Homo sapiens: one gene and its partners. The protein of the gene in region 4 purifies or fractionates together with the protein of the main gene of each other region. This does not show direct contact. Each region holds a gene or a part of one and is shown on either strand. Other genes may lie near its edges.

Evidence for each region. The genes of interacting proteins can lie anywhere in the genome.
Region 1: the proteins of TUFT1 (region 4) and VPS50 purify together in Homo sapiens (affinity purification with mass spectrometry, with the first as the bait; one large-scale study listed by BioGRID). This does not show direct contact.
Region 2: the proteins of TUFT1 (region 4) and DZIP3 purify together in Homo sapiens (affinity purification with mass spectrometry, with the first as the bait; one large-scale study listed by BioGRID). This does not show direct contact.
Region 3: the proteins of TUFT1 (region 4) and BMAL1 purify together in Homo sapiens (affinity purification with mass spectrometry, with the first as the bait; one large-scale study listed by BioGRID). This does not show direct contact.

The regions. Positions count from the first base shown.
Region 1 is NC_000007.14:93,294,398-93,299,587, forward strand, and holds part of VPS50 (syndetin), read left to right. Parts: intron 1-147; coding exon 148-239; intron 240-2,344; coding exon 2,345-2,439; intron 2,440-2,747; coding exon 2,748-2,846; intron 2,847-5,190.
Region 2 is NC_000003.12:108,692,563-108,696,562, forward strand, and holds the end of DZIP3 (E3 ubiquitin-protein ligase DZIP3), read left to right. Parts: intron 1-797; 3' UTR 798-2,278; downstream 2,279-4,000. UniProt on the Homo sapiens protein: E3 Ubiquitin ligase proteins mediate ubiquitination and subsequent proteasomal degradation of target proteins.
Region 3 is NC_000011.10:13,367,822-13,373,011, forward strand, and holds part of BMAL1 (basic helix-loop-helix ARNT-like protein 1), read left to right. Parts: intron 1-1,796; coding exon 1,797-1,946; intron 1,947-4,341; coding exon 4,342-4,588; intron 4,589-5,190. UniProt on the Homo sapiens protein: Transcriptional activator which forms a core component of the circadian clock.
Region 4 is NC_000001.11:151,556,213-151,561,402, forward strand, and holds part of TUFT1 (tuftelin), read left to right. Parts: intron 1-1,196; exon of another isoform or gene 1,197-1,779; intron 1,780-5,190. UniProt on the Homo sapiens protein: Involved in the structural organization of the epidermis. Involved in the mineralization and structural organization of enamel.

The DNA of each region.
Region 1 (5,190 bases), on a different chromosome or scaffold from region 4:
TTGATATTGTTTTGATTGTATAAATATCAAACATATTTACTGTATCTTACATAGACTTACAATGTGTGAGAGGCCAAATAGAAATTATTTGGAAAACAAACACAAATTGGATTAAATCTAAAAATATATATTGTCTTTTATTTTCAGAAGGGAGTAATATGATAGGTACTGAAGAAACTAATTTTGATCGTGGCTACATAAAAAAGAAATTAGAACATGGACTTACACGAATATGGCAGGTTTGGTTTTTTTAAAATTATTTTTTTCACAGAAGCAATAGAAATGTCATGTCATAGTTTTAGAAATTCAGTTTTAAGTTTTCTATATATGTATTCTTTGCAGATTTAATCATATGTTTCTGTTTGGAATTAGGCTATCATTTAATTTCTGTAATGTATTTGGACTATAAGTGGCAGGAAAAAAGTTTTTTAATTTGAAAATCTCCACTGGAAATATTCATACATGTCTTGAGTACATCTTTTGTTTTAGAGGCCTAGCAAATTTCCACTATCATAGAGAAATGTATGCTTTCTCAGTGAGATGTTCTGTTTATTATTTCATTTATCTGTGTTTTCTTAATTTTTTTTTCTGTTAATTTTAGAAAAGGAGTAACTAAGTAGATAGCATACTTAGGTCAGATTATAGTTTAGAATGAATAATTCTTTTTTTCTCAGTCAATGATCTTTGTACCTTGAGGGAATCTTACATGCTTATTGGCTGAATATATCTGGTTTTAGTCCATTTGGGCTCCTATAACAAAATATTCTAGACTGCATAGTTTATAAACAGAGAAGTTTATTTCTTAGAATTCTAAAGGCTGGAAGTCAGAGATCAGGGTGCCAGCATTGTTGGGAGGGAGGGCCTGCTTCCTGGTTCATAGACATTGTCTTGCTGTATCCTCAAATAGTGGAAGGGATGAAGGAGCTCTCTGGGGTCCCTTCTATAGGGGAACTAATCTAATTAATGAGGGCTCTACCTTCACGATTTAATCATCTCACAAAGGCCCCACCTTCTAATATATTATCACCTTGGAGGTTAGAATTTCAGCTTCGGAATTTTGGGTAGACATGAACATTCAGACCATAGCAGTATCTTATTAAGTTTTTCTTTACAATTTAGTAACTCAGTTGTTGTAATCAGATAATTTGTTACTTCTTAGATCACAGTGTAATTTCTTTGAAGATAACTTACTCTTTTTGGACTTCTTTGAACCTTGGAAGACTATAGACCCTTTGGCCATGTTATGGTCTTTTAAAATGTATTTTTGATTTTTCTAATGAGGCTGATCTTTATTTTGACCATCTTTTTTTTTCTTTCTTTCTTTTGATTGATTGATTGATTGATTGAGACAGGGTCTCACTCTGTCACCCAGGCTGGAGTGTGGTGGCAGAGTCATGGCCCAGTGCAGCCTCGACCTCTTGGGCTCAGGTGATCCTTCTGCCTCAGCCTCCTGAGTAGCTGGGACCACAGATGTGCACCACCATGCCTAATTTTCTTAAATTATTATTGGTGGATATGGGGTCTTGCTATGTTGCCCAGACTGGTCTTGAACTCCTGGGCCCAAGTGATATTCCTGCCTTGGCCTCCCAAAGTGCTGGGATTACAGGCATCAGCCACCATGCCCAGCTTGACCATCTTTTATAGGATATGTTTTGAAAAAAATTGTTTAGGAAAATATATTTTGAAAACATAAATTTCTTCATGAATCAGTTAATATTTATAATTTAGTGCTCTTCTAATTTTTGATAATTTTGTATTCGATATGCTATTTGATTTTATGCTTTAGTATTTAAAATTTATTTTTGTGGTTGTAAGAGGTTTGACATATATTTTCTCATTTGTCTATATTAAACTCATAACCATATTAAACATTTATTAAAATTAAATATTTAATTTATCATTAATTGTGGATTTAGGCTGACTGTTTTCTGAGTATTATGCATAAAAAGAAAGGAAAATCTTATAGTTATTGAATATACACCCAGGATCAGATATGATTTGTTTCTGACTTAGTCTCCCAATAGGCCTTAAGTGTACTTTGGTAAAATTTTACAATCTATGATAGAATTTCTGGTAATTCAGTGTACTTTGAAATACTGACTTAGCACTTTATGTAGCTACTTTCCATTCAGTTTGGCAACCTGATGGCATTCCTGGTATAGGAAATGGGATTGTCTCTATTACATCCCTTAAGGATGTTGGCTATTGGCCTAAATAGATATTCGTTAACAAATTAGGAATATATTCCTGTCTCATTTTAATCTGGAACTATAGAGTAAATGCTTCTGATAACTTATTTTCTATATTTTGGGTTTGCTTGATTTTCTTTTTCTTTGCCTTACAGGATGTTCAGCTAAAAGTAAAAACCTACTTGCTTGGAACTGATTTGTCTATATTCAAATATGATGATTTCATCTTTGTTTTGGATATAATCAGCAGGTAGTATTTAAGATCTTGTCTTATTCTTTAGTTTGAGTCATTCAACCATGATAAATCATGAGCTAGTGAGTTATCATCTATAACTTCTTTATGGAAATGAAGATAATTTTTGCTGCTAAGTTTGTGAGTGTATTTAAATATTTCTGCCCTTTGGGTGTTTGTAAACCTTTATGGATTTGTGATCTTTAGAATTTTTTCACATGTCCAAATTTTAGTGATTTTTTTTATCTTTGAAGAAAGAGAAACCACACTTCTTTTTCTCTATAAGGCTGCTGCTGAAATTTACTGAAACCTTTTTATCCAACTAGGTTGATGCAAGTTGGAGAAGAATTTTGTGGTAGCAAGTCTGAAGTTTTACAGGAATCTATTAGAAAACAAAGTGTCAATTATTTCAAGAATTACCATAGGTAAGAACTCTAATAAGATATGAATCGACTTATTTAGGTAATGAGAATACTTTTGTCTAATACTTAATCTTATAGCATTAATTGATTTTAAACAATTACTTTTGAATTTGAATGTGTTGTAGCTTTTTTAAGATGGTTAAGGATTTTTTTAACCAAAATATGATGAAATGTTCTCATTACATATTCATTGTACATTTTAATATATTTTTGTCTTGAGGGGCTTAAAATATTGAACTGATTTTTTAATGAGTAAAACATGATTATTATATCAAGGTTCACAGAAAGAATTTGGCCACTGTTCCATACCTGCATACATATGGGTGTGCTTATAAGGAAGTTAAATCAGTAGAGGCAGTGCTCAGTGAGGGGGTGCTTGAGAGTATCTATCTTTTAAATGTAAGAAGGATTCTAGAGGAGAGGATGTGATATTCAGAATTCCCCTATAAATCCAAATTTGTATACTGCATTGCTTTGCAAAACAATCACTGCTAATATTTAAAAGAGTGACTAGGAATGGTTTGGGTAGTGGAGGAAGGTGGGAAAGAATGTTTATAATAGCAGTGTGATTATATCCTTACAGCAGCAATAAATTGAGGGAAGGGAGAGCTAACATGAGATTTCTCTTGATATAAGCTAGACCCCAAGTTGTATCCCTTTTGTCCTTTGAGTTGAGTTTCATCTTACTTTTTATTCTGAACTTTTACTTTTTACAATTGAATTTAAGTTTTGATTTCCTTGTTATTTGGTCCCAGAGAGAGTCATGATTTGAAATTCTGCTTTTTCTCCTTGTTCATAGTCAACACCTGCTCACAGTGATATATGCCATGTCAAAAGAGAGATGACTGAACACCAAACCATTGATTAATTAATTATTATATATATTTGAATACAAGTTATCTCTGTTAATTGTAAACAATGAAGTAAATTGTTTGAAAAAGATTTAAATTGAACTATACTAAAGCAGAGCCTTTGAGTTTCATGACTGAGAATGTTTAAAAATTTTTTAAAAATTTAATTGACTAAACCTCAGGGAAACAGTGGGAAGGGACCAACAGGAAGCCCTAACACTGCCTTTATTTATAAGTTCCTTGTCTGCTAAAACTTAAGCCCTGACTAAAACAAAAGGCTGGCCCTATAAACATTCCTGTATAGAAGTGGGAGGGGCCTGTTAATCATGGATGGGGAAATAAAATGGAAGCACAAAGGAGCCGGAAGCCTCACTTTCCCTGCAGTATGAAGGCATGCCAAATGTCTCTCTTCCCAGAGATTGCTTTGTATCCAACATGACAACTGGGAGAACTTTTGGTGTTCCTGGTGTCTAGGATGTGTGTACAATATAGAGACACTGATTTATTTAGTAGCTTCCATTCTGCATTCTGTTTTACTTATTGTCAAAAGGTGTCTGTCATCTGTAGCAACTAGCTAGGGGCATTTTGACCATGATGGAAATTCCTCACAGAGTTCACATTAATAAAATTAGAAAATACAGAAATGAATGACTTAAATCTTCCTCAAACACTCAACATTTTAAATAACTTCTCTTAGAAACATTTGTGAAACTTATTTCTCATTGATGTGGCTGTGCTATATTATTAGAAGGAAAGCTGGGTTGAGTAATAGTAGACTTGGGTTCTTGTCGCATTTTTTGCTGCTTACCAACTGTCTGGTATTGGCAAATCCTTTAACCTCTCTGGCCTGTGATTTTATGCATTGTAAAATGAAGTGGCCAGATTAAAAGGTCTCCATAAGTGTTGCCTAGACATCTTGACCCGTTTTTTTGCAGTATTGTATATTGTAAAAATTGGGGCAGGTTAAACAGCAAAAATTTAATTATTACTTAGTATTCTTCTTTTTCCCTAGTATTTAAACAAAAGTTTAAGGTAGTCTAGTTTCTATCCTGTCTGTAGTCATTTTCGCTCTGACAGTTGCCATCAGGAAAATTATAGTGGAAGTCATTTGGTAAAGTTGGTGCAAACCATCAATGTGTTCTAAGGTATATTTGTTTCTTTACAAAACAAGATAAACTTGAACAGAAACTTTAGAAATGATACTAGTGTCCATACATTGAATTGACTAAAGTCATTACATTAGCCAGTGATGAATCTAAATCTGCAAAATCCCAATTTAATATCCCCTTTGCCAGTCATTCTACATAAATACTGAAAAACTGTATGAAACATGGTGAAATATAGATCAAGTATGTTCTTATTTTGCTAATAGAAGTGTTTAAATGTGCATACAGTTTGGTTCATGGTCCTCTCCTGCCAAATATAGCTCTTGAGAATGAAGAAATTCTTGAACCAAATTATTCTGACTTTCAATCTATTTAAGCTATTGGTTTGAA
Region 2 (4,000 bases), on a different chromosome or scaffold from region 4:
ACATATTCCCTGCATTTCCATGTCTGCCTGTCCTTTAGATAAACAGTAAAAGTTTCCCATGTGCCAGTATTTCTCAAATGGTTTACATCAGAATCACCTGGAGGACTTTTAAGCTAGATTGTTTGGTCCCATCCCAGGGATTCTGAATCAACAGGTTTGCGATGGGTCCAGATAGTTTACTTTTCCAAGTTTACTAACAAGTTTGCCAAGTTCCCCCAGTTTATTACCATTAGACCATACCTTTTTGTCCAATCATTTAAAACAAATTTTTATATAATAAGTTTTATTTGTATGTAATAAATTTTATTATATAAAAATAAGTTTTAATATATATTATATAAAAAGTTTTAATAAATACCTAATATATTATTTAATATGATAAAACTTATATTAAATGAAATTTTATGCTGTTCTCTTGTCAATCTGTCTTTTGTTATCTTGCTGGTGTGCCTGTCATGTGAGGGACTGCAATCTGATATGCCTGTTTTCCACAGTCAAAGCAATTACAAGAGAATTGTTACAATTACCCAGTTATGTCAAGAGATTTTTTTTTAATTCACTAAGGTAGAGATAAGGAGAATGTATTAAAATAGGATATTTTAATTATAAATGCATGACTGGGGAGGGGGTATTGTTTTTGAATAAAATATGAGGTTATTTGCCATGACAAAAAAAAAAAGAAGTAGGAAAATCCCATGGAAATTTATGTTCCTTCTAACTTTTAAAACTACCTAAAAAATATAATTGATTTAAATTATATCTCAATATTCCCCATTCTTTTATATCCCCTTAAATAGGTACCCATGAAGAGATTATGAACTACTTGAAGGTGGAGACTGTACGGTGGTGTGTTGGAGCTGGCTTGTAATGTCTTATGAGTGACAATCGTTAGTTTGAGGAATTTTGTGAGACAGTTGTCAAATTGTTGCTAGCTTGAAATCTGCGGCAATTGGAGTATTTACACCATAGAAATGCTATAAGTGAAGACCTACCTTTCCCTTAAGAGCTAGTTGTTAAACCTTTACCAGCATACCACTGGACCTTGTCTAAAATTTCTTTGTGTTCCCAGTGTCTTGCCCAGTAGATACAAGATAAATATTGCCAGAATCAGATATCAGGAAGTAGTAAGAAAAGGAGTTAATATGCAAACTAAATCACTCGCTCAATTGAATAATTGAGATCTTCTGTTCATTTGTTCCTTGGACCTTAATCATTTGCATTTTGGAGAAAATTTTTTCTGCTTTAAAAGTCTGTAATTTCAGTTTTTGTGTCGGGGAGAGGGAAAAACTATTTGTCTGTAGTTGCTTTTTGTGACAAAGTGAATACCCACTGGGCTAAGTTTCATATCTAAAGCTTGTCACTAAGAATTTTCATTTTTAGGGGTCAAAAACCTATTTTGAAAATAGTGTTGTGTGAATGCTGTAAGTGTTGTACATGTCTCTGGTTTCAGAATTAAAAGAATTCAGAGTTACCTTGTGAGATAAATGTTCTTTGCTTCATATTCACAGTTTCACCTCCATTTAAATTTATGGGGAAGAATAAATGTTTCCTGACTCAGAAACAATTTTGCCTCCATATTTCAGTGCAAATATATTTTGAAGTTACTTTTAAATATTTATTTAAAACCTCTGTTTCTGTAACTGTATGTTAAACGTATTCTTCTGTAATGAGAATAGACTGGAACATGTGAGGGAAAAATATTTAAAAAAAGATGGCAGTCATCTAGACATGTAAAATGCCAAGAATGTCTTAGAATTGCACAATTTAGAATTTATAGAGCCTTTAATCACCTTGTCTAGCACCTTGTATTAGTCCATTTTCATGCTGCTGATAAAGACATACCTGAGATTGGGCAATTTACAAAAGAAAGAGGTTTAACGGACTTACAGTTCCACATGACTAAGGAGGCCTCACAATCATGGTGGAAGGCAAAGAGGAGCAAGTCACATCTTACATGGATGGCAGCAGACAAGGAGAGAGAGCTTGTGCAGGGAAACTCCCATTTTTAAAACCATCAGATCTCATGAGGCTTACTATCACGAGAACAGCATGGGAAAGACCTGCCCCCGTGATTAAATTATTTCCCACCAGGCCCCTCCCACAACATGGAATAATGGGAGATACAAGATATTTGGGTGGAGACACAGAGCCAAACCATATCACACCTTAAGGTCATGGTCATATAGCTAGTTATCTTGTAAAACCAATGTTTCTTAGTTCATACTTACAACTGCAATTTCACTTTCATTTAGAAAAGAATAAATGTTTCTTAATTGAACAACTATTTTATCTGTGTATTTCATTATAAGCATATTCTGAAACTACTTGAAATCTTTACTTCAAATGTATCTTTCTGTTTAATTGGGCTTAAACTTTTTCTACTGTTTTGAGAAACGTTAGGAAAATGGGAAGGAAAATATCCAAGAAGACAGTTATATAGACTTATAAAATGCCACGATTGTTTTAAAATAACAGAATGCCAAAGTTCATTGGGTCCTTAGTGACATATAATACATTTTCTTATTTTACAGGTATGTTGTACCCAATGTCACATGGCCAGATAGTGGCTAGGCCAGTCTCAGTACTTGAGGGTCTCTGATGCCTCATCACATGCTTTCTCCACAAACTCATGTTGTAATAGGGTATTGGTGTTGACTTGCCATGCTTAGCTCCAAGGATGGGGCCAGAGAACTTAATACAATAGTTGGTATATAGGGAGAATGTAATAGGACAGTGCTCCAGGAAGTTATATTTAATTCTTTAGGTGCTGAAGGTAATGGGATTATAGTTTTTGATGTATACTTTAACAGTAAAGACAATTGCAGGGGTCATTCTACCACACACAGTGATCACTGTCATGCCTGTGCCTACTGAGGGATGATCCAGAACACTCCACCCTGCTGAGAAATCCAGTGAGGACCAGAAAGCTCTTAAAGTGGAAATATTTCCATCAAAAACAACCTGAAAGTATCCGGTAATATCACTGCAGCTGCTGTTAGATGATATGTCTTAGATTTTCCTTCATATTTATTGTCCATGTGTGTAACATTTTATAGCTTCTATGGGACACCTTCAAATGTGTTTAGTACCTCATTTGATCCATGAATAACTCTGAGGTGAATGTTGTTATGCTTATTTTACAAATGATGAACCTGAGACTCAAGTAAGAGGGAAATAATTTGTCCAAAGTCATAGGTACAAAGTGGCATTCTGAGATTTGATTGGAGTCCCTTAGCTGGTATTCTCTTCATAGTTGCAGCCTCACTTTGGGTTGACTTCGTGCACACAAGAAATACAGTATTTTCTTCCTTTTAAAAAAATTTTATGATAAATTTTATTTTATGATTAATTCAGGGAAGGTAGGCTTATATTTTACCAGATTCAAAGTTAGCAAGAACCACCTGCATTTATCAAATACTCCTGGAATACCTTATCTGTGAGCCTCGTAGATAAGAATTCTAGGATCACAGTAATGTACTATTCTGGTTTATACCCAGATAAAAACAACAAATGAATACTAATTTATTATAAAGATACATAGTTTGATTTTCTTGAGTTGGCAGTTTTCAGTAACTAGTGCAGATTTGAACATGCTACTTAACAGAACTAATGAGCTCTTGTTCTTAATTATCCTGGACCACCATCACATTACATGATGTATTTATAACAATGCATATTCCAATAAGCTGTCTGGGAATCTCCATTTGGAGTAAGTACCACAGGTGTTCTGATGCACATTATATTTTGAAAACAACTGCTATAGTAGAAAGCAGATTTCTCACTCAGATCTAGGTTTAGATTTTTGAATTCCATATCTAGCATATTGTATGATCATGAAGACATTACTTTTCTCAACCAGTTTCTTTTCTGGAAAATGGATAAAATGCTACTTGCCTGACTGTTTCATTTTAAATGAACATTTATTAGTTTTCTTTCCCAAAGTAGCAAATGAAATTTCCGTTAGTCATTCAATCTGTTTACACTTACTCCTTGATCATAA
Region 3 (5,190 bases), on a different chromosome or scaffold from region 4:
CAGTTTTCTCATTTATGGAAGAGTACCTATTTCTTTGGGTTGTTGTGAGGATTGAAAGTGTTAATGTATATAAAGCAGGCAGAACAGTTCCTAGCACATAGTAAGAACAGTATCAGTGTGGCCTAATGTCTTGCTCCCAAGCTGTCCACGTTAATCCCTGGAAAAAAATACCACCAGATAATCTCCTTCAAGTCATCTCTTTCATTACAGCACACCGCTTGTTCCTAAAAGTAAAATGCAGACTTTGGTATCTGTTGTTCTTTATAGTCTAGCCTTGGCTTTTTTAAGTGACCTTAGGAGAAAAATATGAATGGCATTTGGGCCTTGCCTTTGAGGCTCTTAGCATATAGTCAGAGAAATGAGACAGACAGCACCCTGCATAGTAATAGGTACAGCCATAGAAATAGTGCCAGGCATAGAGAACGGATGATTAATTCTCATGTGGGCGCAAGGACAGGCATCACTGAGTAGATGACAACCGAGGTGGGTTTGAAAAGATGAATTAATGTTTGCCAGGTAATGAAGGGAGGAACAAAGAGGAAACAATCTGTGCACAGGTGCAGGGGTGTGGAGCCACATGGCTTGCTTGGTGCTATTGGACAAAACGTGCACGGAGGGGAAGGGCTGAACCATGAAGACCATTTGTTCTGTGGGGACACAGTGAAGAGCTCTGAGTTGGGTGGGGCAGGCTCGGATTGGCATTCTAGGGGAGATCGCAGAGCTGGCAATGTGGGAGGTAGATGGGATGGGAGGAAGCCCAGAAGGAGCCCTGGGCAGTGGCCATTCCTCGGCACACTTGCTCGTGTGATGGCCATGGGTGTGTTTTCCCTCGGCTTCTGTACTGACACCTAGCCAGTGTTTGGTAAGGAGGTGTGCTCCTCAGAATCACCTGGGAGCTTTTCAACATAGTCATGCTCCACCCCCAGAGATTCTAATTTGGTTTTTCCAGACAGCACAGTCCAATAAAAACATAATGCAAACCACAAACATGAGCCACATATATAATTTCATATTTTCTGGTAGCCAGACTTTAAAAAATAAAAATAAATGTAAAATTAACTCCAAAATATTTCAGCATGTAATAATTATAAACAACTAATAAGTTCGTTCACATTCTTTTATTTTTCTATACTGTCTTTGAAATCCTGTGTGTATTTAACACTTACAGCACATTTCAATTCAGAAAAGCCACATTTCAAGTGCTCAGTACCTGCATGCAGCTAGTGGCTAATGCATTGGACAGCACAGATCTAGAATGGGGTCCAGGAATCTGTAGGTTGATCATGCATCCAGGGTATTCTGGCCTACAAGCCAGGTTGAGAACTTAAGGCAGTCCGGCTCCCACCTTGCCTTCCCAATATCCATATCCTACCCATCCTTCAGTGCCAGCCCAAGTTCCTTCTCCTCTGGGAAGCACAGGTTGTCTTTGCCATTTATTTGGCACTAATCATACATCACCCTGTCCTATTATTAATCTTTTCTTGGTGCACCTCCATTTGCCCTTTGTTAGCCATAAGCGTCTATTGGGCAAGAACCCCATACTATATTTCTTTTCATCCCCAGAGTACCTAATCCATTTATTTAGTAGCACACTCTGTGATTTATAAACATTTCCAGACTGACAACACACCTGTCCATGCTGCATCTGTTAAAGCCTAAACTTGGGAGATATTTATCTCATGTCATCATTATAAAACAGTGAGGCAGGCAAGAAAAGGCTTTGCTCAAGGTCACACTCCCCCTCCTGACAGACAACACTGCTCTCAGTTTATCACATTTTGTGTATTGATTTGCAGCTGGACTTCCAGTTAAAACAGATATAACCCCTGGGCCATCTCGATTATGTTCTGGAGCACGACGTTCTTTCTTCTGTAGGATGAAGTGTAACAGGCCTTCAGTAAAGGTTGAAGACAAGGACTTCCCCTCTACCTGCTCAAAGAAAAAAGGTAACAATTTAACAGTCCATTAAAACCCTGTGACAGGTGAAGCATGCTTTCTGCAGCGGAGCTCTCAGCTGGGCGTTGGTTCCATGGTTTCTGGCTGGCCAGAGTGGCAGGTCCCAGGACTGCAGACAGGACCCTGCAGTCCTCCCTATGTGTAGGGCAGTTGGGAGCAGAGGAGAGAGCTGAAAAGCCTGATGGCAGAGATTTGTGGAGAGGCCTCCTCTGTTTAAATTGTGTTTCTTTTAACATGATTGAGGAAGAATACTCTCAGCCACAATCCTAACTGCCTTATGAACAGCCACCAGTCCACCAAAATTACTCTGAGCTCACCAGTGACCTTGATGTTGTTAAATGCGATGAACATTTTTCCTTTGTCTTCCTTCTTGAAGTGTTCTCTTCTCCTGGATTCCATGAAACCACATTCTTCTTCCTCCTCCCCGACCCCCTGCTGCTACAGGCTCTCTTGCTGGCCCCTTTGCTGGCTGCCCCTCTCTGTCCTGGGCTGCATCTCTGTCTGCAGTCTCTCTCTGTTGGTCATGTCATCTACTCCCTCAGCTTTAAATGCCAACAACTTCCACATTCATATTTCCAGCCTAGACTTGTCTTTTGAACTCCAGATTCATAAATATACTGCTTACTAAATCAACCTGCTTTGGATATCTCAGGGGAGTCTCCAACAGGATACGTGCCGAAGTAATCACCTGAGCCTCTCCTCCAGCATAAATGGCACTGCCATTCAGCTGGCTGCTCATGCTAGAAGCCGGGGAGGTGCCCTCACTTCTGCTTCACCACCCCACTCTTCAATCCCGTTAGTTATGAAGTCCTGCCACAATGAGTCCCATCTGCAAAAGTTCTCTGAAATGTTTGTCCCTTTCCATGCTGCCTACTTTCACTCAGCTCCAGGCTGCCCCCAACTCTCACCAGGTCTCATAAAGTGTAGACCCACATGCTCCCCACCCCCAACACAGCAGCCAGGATGATCTTTTTATCAGTCCCCTTTTAAAAACCCTTCAGTGTTCCCTATTGTTCTTGAAGAAAAGCTCAAAATATTTAACGTGACCATGCAGCCCCCGACCCTGCCACTAAGCACATGTGAGCCATGTTGACTTCCTTTGATGCCTCAAGCCCCTTCTGGGCAATGCTTCTGCACATGCTGTCGCTTCCTGGTTGGAATTTCTTCCCTCTCCCCATGAACTCCCTTCACATGGCTCTCTCCAACCTCAGACTGCCTTATGTCTTATAGCACCCTACTGGTTTGCTTTCTAGTGCTTTCTTATACTTGCTGTTATATAGTTATTTGTGCGATTATTTGTTTAAAGTCTGTCTCCCCCACTAGGCTGTAAACTCCACAAGGGCATGTCTGATTTGTTTTTCACTCTATTCCAGTAACCAGCACAGACTCCACGCTTGGCAGACACTCCATAGTGGTTTGCTTGTTGGTGAAGTCTATAGGTGCTCCACATTTAATGTGTCCCAAATCGAACTATCTTTTTTCTCTCTCTCTCTTCTAGTCTGTTTTCTTTCTTCTCTGAGTCAGTGAATGACACCAGCAACCACCCAATCCAGAAAAGTTAGAGTCATCTTCATTTGTTTCTTTCCCTTAAGCCTGATATTCACAGCAAATCCCAACAGTTTGATCTCAGAAATTTCTCCTGCTTTCTTTCTCTGCTCCCTCTCATCTTCACTGCACTGCCATAGTTCAGTCCTCCTAATCTCTTGCTGTATTATAGCCACTGGCCCCTGAATCAGCCTTCCTACTTCTGTTTTCTACTGTCTTCCAGTTCATACGTCACTCTGCTCCTACAGCATCCAAACCACAATTTGATTTTGCTGTTTCTGCACTTAAATACCTGTAGATGCTCTCCATTTCCTGCCTTAAAAAGACAGACCAACATTGGTTAGAAAGTAATCCAAGGCCCTTTTAATCTTCCTCCAACCTGCCTTTCCAATTTGCCCCTCACTCCCAGTACCTCCAATTTCACTTCAACCACACAGAGCTCTTGGCCAGTTCCTATATAGGCTGTGCCTCTGTGCCTGTGTACGTCATCAGCCTTTATACATTCTAGTCCCTCAGCCACTGCTCATCCTTCTTGATCCACCTCCTCTACTGGTTTTTTGGGGGAGCCTTCCTCTCCCTAGGAAGAGTTAGATATTCCTTCCTTGGTGTATGTAATGAATGTCCATGGTATAACTGGCCCTACTTAAGCATTCTGACACTGGATGACAGTTTGTTTCTCTTTCCGTCTGCCCCTTTCATTAGATGCTTACTTCTGGAGAGTGAAGCCTTGATTTTTTTTTATTTTTTGACTCCCTACCTACATCCCATCCCACCATCGGCCGTGTACACCTCCATGGCCCAAACCTAGTGCTGACACTAACCACGAACTTTGCTTTCTAGCAGATCGAAAAAGCTTCTGCACAATCCACAGCACAGGCTATTTGAAAAGCTGGCCACCCACAAAGATGGGGCTGGATGAAGACAACGAACCAGACAATGAGGGGTGTAACCTCAGCTGCCTCGTCGCAATTGGACGACTGCATTCTCATGTAGTTCCACAACCAGTGAACGGGGAAATCAGGGTGAAATCTATGGAATATGTTTCTCGGCACGCGATAGATGGAAAGTTTGTTTTTGTAGACCAGAGGTAAGAGTCTACATACTACCCTTGAGCAATGATGGTAGAGGATTTTCAACCCTGATCTAAAAAGCAGAGAAGACTGGGCCATCAGCTGGCTTTTCTAAGAATGAAGAAAGAAAGAAAAAGCTGGGTGCAGTGGCTCACACCTCAAATCCCAGCACTTTTTGAGGCCAAGGTGGGTGGATCACTTGAGCCCAGGAGTTTGAGACTAGCCTGGGCAACGTGGCAAAACCCTGTCTCAACTAAAAATACAAAAATTAGCCAGGCATGGTGACACATACCTGTAGTCCCATCTACTCTGGAGGCTGAAGCAGGAGGATCAGCTGAGCCTCGGGAGGTCAAGGCTGCAGTGAGCTGTGATTGCACCACTGCACTTCCGCCTGGGCAACAGAGTGAGACCCTGTTTCAAAAAAAAAGAGACAAATGATGAGAGTCTCTGTTAAAAAATGAGATTCAATAGGATATCATCATAAATACAGAGATTTTTCTGTCATTCTTTGGCATATAGAGACAATTAAGTGGGGTGCCTTGATGTCCATGGCTAAAAGAAAAACAGTAGGGATAGCATGCTGTCTGAATCTATGGAATGTTCCAGAACCATTATTGTG
Region 4 (5,190 bases):
CAGATGTGCCACAGTTTGTTTAACCATTTCTCTACTGAAGGCATCTGGGTTGTTTCTAGTTTTTGGCTGTTACAAATAAAGCTGCTTTTTCCCTTTCCTTTCCCCTTTCCCCTTCCCTTCCCTTTCCTTCCTTTTCCCTTTCCCTCCCTGCCTTCCCTTCCCTTCCTTTCTCCTCCCCCTCCCCGTCTCCTCCCTTCCCACCCCCCAGCTCCTCTCCTCAGGGTCCTACTCCGTAGCCCAGGCTGGAGTGCTGTGGTATGATAGCAGCTAGCTACAGCCTCAACCTCCCCAGCTCAAGTAATCCTCCCACCTCAACCTCCTGAGTTTCTGGGACAACAGGCACACAACACCATGCCTGGATAAGAAAAAAACATGTTTTTTTGAAGAGAGGGGCAACTTTGTTGCCCAGTCTGGTCTCAAGCTCCTGGCCTCAAGCAATCCTCCCACCTTGGCCTCCCAAAATGCTGAGATTACAGGCCGGACACAGTGACTCACGCCTGTAATCCCAGCACTTTGGGAGACCAAGGCAGATGGATCACTTGAGGTCAGGAGTTCGAGACCAGCCTGGCCAACATGGTGAAGCCCCCTCTATATTAACATATAAAAATTAGCCAGGCATTGTCACGGGAGCTTGTAATCCCAGTTCAGTTACGTGGGAGGCTGAGGTAGGAGAATTGCTTGAACCTGGGAGGCAGAGGTTGCAGTGAGCCGAGATTGCGTCACTGTACTCCAGCCTGGGTGACAGAAACAGAATTAGTCTCAAAAACCAAACAAAATGCTGAGATTACAGATGTGAGCTATGATGCCCGGTTCTGTTTTTCATTTATCTGTTTTCTTTTTCCTGCCTTCCTGTGGATTAACTGAACACTTTTTAGGATTCCATTTTTATTCATTTATAATGTTTTTGAGTGTTATCTCTTTGTATAGACTTTTTAGTGGTTACTCTAGGTATTATACATTATGTATACATAGGTTATCACAGTCTCCTGGTGTTGGCATTTTACTAGTTTGAGTGAAGAAGAGAAACCTTTCCTTCCTTTACATCCCTTTACCTTCTCCCATTTATGATACTAAATATTTAATAGTATAATATTATCATATTTAAATATTTTCTCTGCATACATTTAGAACCACATCAGACATTGTTATACTTTTTGCTTTAATCATCAAATGTAACTTAGAAAACCTAAGAGGGGCTTTCCAGCCCCAGCCCCGGCCCCTACAGCCACCGAGATGTTGATGCCTAAGAACCGGATTGCCATTTATGAACTCCTTTTTAAGGAGGGAGTCATGGTGGCCAAGAAGGATGTCCACATGCCTAAGCACCGGGAGCTGGCAGACAAGGATGTGCCCAATCTTCATGTCATGAAGGCCATGCAGCCTCTCAAGTCCCGAGGCTACGTGAAGGAACAGTTTGCCTGGAGACATTTCCACTGGTACGTTACCAATGAGGGCATCCAGTATCTCCGTGATTACCTTCATCTGCCCCGGAGATTGTGCCTGCCACTCTATGCTGCAGCCGTCCAGAGACTGGAAGTCCTCAGCCTAAAGGTCTGAAGGGTGAGCGACCTGCAAGACTCACAAGAGGGAAAGCGGACAGAGATAACCTACAGACGGAGTGCTGTGCCGCCTGGTGCCGACAGCAAAGCTGAGGCTGGGGCTGGGTCAGCAACCGAATTCCAGTTTAGAGGTGGATTTGGTTGAGGATGTGGTCAGCCACCTCAGTAAAATTGGAGAGGATTATTTTGCATTGAATAAACTTACAGCAAAAAAACTTAAAAAAAAAAAAAGAAAACCTAAGAGGGGAAGGAAATCTTGTTGTATTTACCCATCTTTTTTCAACTCATGTTTCTTTCTTCCCATTATTTCAAGTTTCCTTTTTTTAAAAAATAATTTCCTTTCTGTTTAGAGAACTTTTTAAGCCATTCTTTTAGTGTAGGTCTGCTGGTGAGAAATTCTCTTAGTTTTCCTTCATCTGAGAATGTCTTGATTTCCCCCTCATTTCTGAAGGATATTTTCCTTTGTTACAGGATATTTTCCTTTGTCAATTCTGAATTGACCGTTCTTCTCTTTCAGCATTTGAAAAATAGTATGCCACTTCCTTCTACTCTCTGTCATTTCCGAAGAGAAAATAACCTTTGAGGGATCCCCTCAAAGGTTATTTTCTCTGCTTTCAAGACTTTTTCTTTGTCTTTAGTTATCAGAAATTTAATTATGATCTATCATGGCATGAATTTCATGTTTATTCTGTTTGAAGTTTGCTTGGCTTCTTGAATCTATAGATTTGTGTCTTTTGCCAAATTTTGAAAATTTTTGGTCATTATTTCTTTGAGAACATTTTCAACTGACCCTCTTTCTCCTCTCTACCTGGAATTCTGATGGCTGGATGGAATCATCTCTCAGTGCCCCAACCCAGCCTAGTTGTCTATGCTCTTCCAATTGGAATGCGTAGGTTTATGAAACAGACCAGACTTGACCTTCATTAGCTAATAACCCCTTTGTTCTGACTGAAGGATGCCCTGCCTTTTCCCAGCCTGCCTCCATAGAACACTATGGGGAGATAGTGTCCTTTTTTTTTTTTTTTCTTTTTGAGACGGAGTCTTGCTCTGTTGCCCAGGCGGGAGTGCAGTGGTATGATCTTGGCTCCCTGGAACCTCCACCTCCTAGGTTCAAGCGATTCTCCTGCCTCAGCCTCCCTAGTAGCTGGGATTACAGGTGCCTGCCACCACAGCCAGCTGAGTTTTATATTTTCAGTAGAGACGGGGTTTCACCATGTTGGCCAGGCTGGTCTCAAACTCCTGACCTCAGGTGATCCACCCACCTTGGCCTCCTAAAGTGCTGGGTTTACAGGCATGAGCCACTGCCCCTGGTCGAGATACTGTTTTAATAAAAGTGCAGGTATGTCCTGGGAAGGAAGAATTTGGCAGCCATTCTGGCTATTTTGAAATCATTTCCTCTTTTTTCTTTTGTAATATTTTCTTGACCTAGATGTCATGGAGCATTCTCTGTGCATTCAGAAAATACCTTTGCTAAGGGCTGTGGCATACAACAGCTCTTGAGGAGTTAACAGAAGGGGTAATTCTTCACAAAACACAAATAACTGAGAGGCAGATGCCATGGGAGGCCTTGTGACGCTGTGGGAGCTCAAGGAGGGGAAGATGTGTTTCCCACAGGATGCGGGGTAGCATCTTGGAAGATGAGGCATTTGAACATGAACTTGAGGAACTTGGAGACGCCTTAGGTGAAAATGGGAAGAATAGATATTTAAGGCACAGGAAATGATGGGAGCAAAGGCACTGAAGTTGGAAACCATGGAATGTATTGGATAGGGCACTGAGAGATGGTAGCAAGAGGTGTGAGTTTACCCAGACTGTGGAAAGCCTTGCATGCCACTCTAAGGATGTGGCTTTTATTTCATAGGAATTAAGTGTTTTCATAAAACCAGCTACTTTGCTAGGGTTGGGAAGGTTTAAGGGCCATTGTGACAGTGTCTTCTGTCTTCCCAATCCAAAAAGTGGGAGGATGCTGATGTTTCAGTGCCACCCTCCTGTGTGGCAGAGAGTAACCTCCATACATTTTCTCATTTTCTTTTTCTTTTTGAGACAGCATCTCACTCTGTCGTCCAGGCTGGAGTGCAGTGGCGCGATCTCAGCTCACTTTAACCTCCGCCTCCCTGGTTCAAGCGATTCTCCTGCCTCAGTCTCCTGAGCAGCTGGGATTACAGGCGCCCACCACCACGCCTGGCTAATTTTTTTGTATTTTTGGTAGAGATGGGGTTTCACCATGTTGGCCAGGCTGGTCTCGAACTCCTGACCTCAGGTGATCCTCCCACCTCGGCCTCCCAAAGTGCTGGGATTACAGGCATGAGCCAGCACACCGGCAATATTTTTAAGTAATATTCAACAAAAAAACCCTCAGTTGGGGGCCGGGTGCGGTGGCTCACGCCTGTAATCCCAGCGCTTTGGGAGGCTGAGGCGGGAGGATCACAAAGTCAGGAGTTCGAGACCAGCCTGGCCAATGTGGCGAAACCCCGTCTCTACTAAAAATACAAAAATTAGCCAGGTGTGGTGGCAGATGCCTGTAATCCCAGCTACTTGGGAGGCTGAGGCAGGAGAATTGCTTGAGCCCAGGAGACGGAGGCTGCAGTGAGCCAAGATCGTGTCACTGCACTCCAGCCTGGGAGACAAGAGCAAGACTCCATCTCAAACAAACAAAAAACCCTCAGTTGGATGGTAATATACCCCTTTTACAGATAAAAACATCAAGAGTTAAGTATCTCACCAAAGACTGATTTCTTCTCCACCAAGTTGGAACGTTATCTTCTCTAGACATTTGGAAGGTTAAGAGGGTTCCTTAAAACCTGTTACCAGTAAGATGTCATTTATGCAGCTGGGCCTCAAGGCAGGGGATGACCAGATGACCTCAAGATCACTTTCATTCTTGGATAGCCCAGCACCTATTTCTCTTCATTGTCTGGGAGAGGCATATACTCCATCCTCACGCTGTCACAGAATGGAATCCAGAAGGAGCCTGAGATATACTTGGTCCAACTTCCTTATTTTTCCAGTGGGAACCAGAGATCCATAGTGGCTAAGCCCCTCATTCACTTCCATGCATAGTGCAGGTGATTTACTCTGCCTTGTTAGCCTTCTCTCAACGTTATCATCTTCCCAATCTACAGGCCCTTACTTTTCCCTCCTACCACGTTTTTCCTTTCAGGTTTTTAATTTTCCCTGCAAAGTATTGTGTGTGTGTGTGTGTGTGTGTGTGTGTGTGTGTGTGTGTGTGTGTGAGTGTTTGAGACGGAGTCTTGCTCTGTCACCCAGGCTGGAGTGCAGTGGCACAATCTTGGCTCACTACAAGCTCCGCCTCCCGGGTTCACGCCATTCTGCTGCCTCAGCCTCCCGAGTAGCTGGGACTACAGGCGCCTGCCACCACGCCAGGCTGATTTTGTTTTTGTATTTTTTAGTAGAGACGGGGTTTCACTGTGTTAGCCAGGATGGTCTCGATCTCCTGACCTCGTGATCCACCTGCCTTGGCCTCCCAAAGTGCTGGGATTACAGGCGTGAGCCACCGTGCCCGGCCTTTTTAAAAAAATCTTCTTTGAAGCCCGGGCAACATGGCAAAACCTCATGTCTACAAAAAATACAAAAATTAGATGGGCATATTGGTGCGCCTGTAGTCCCAGCT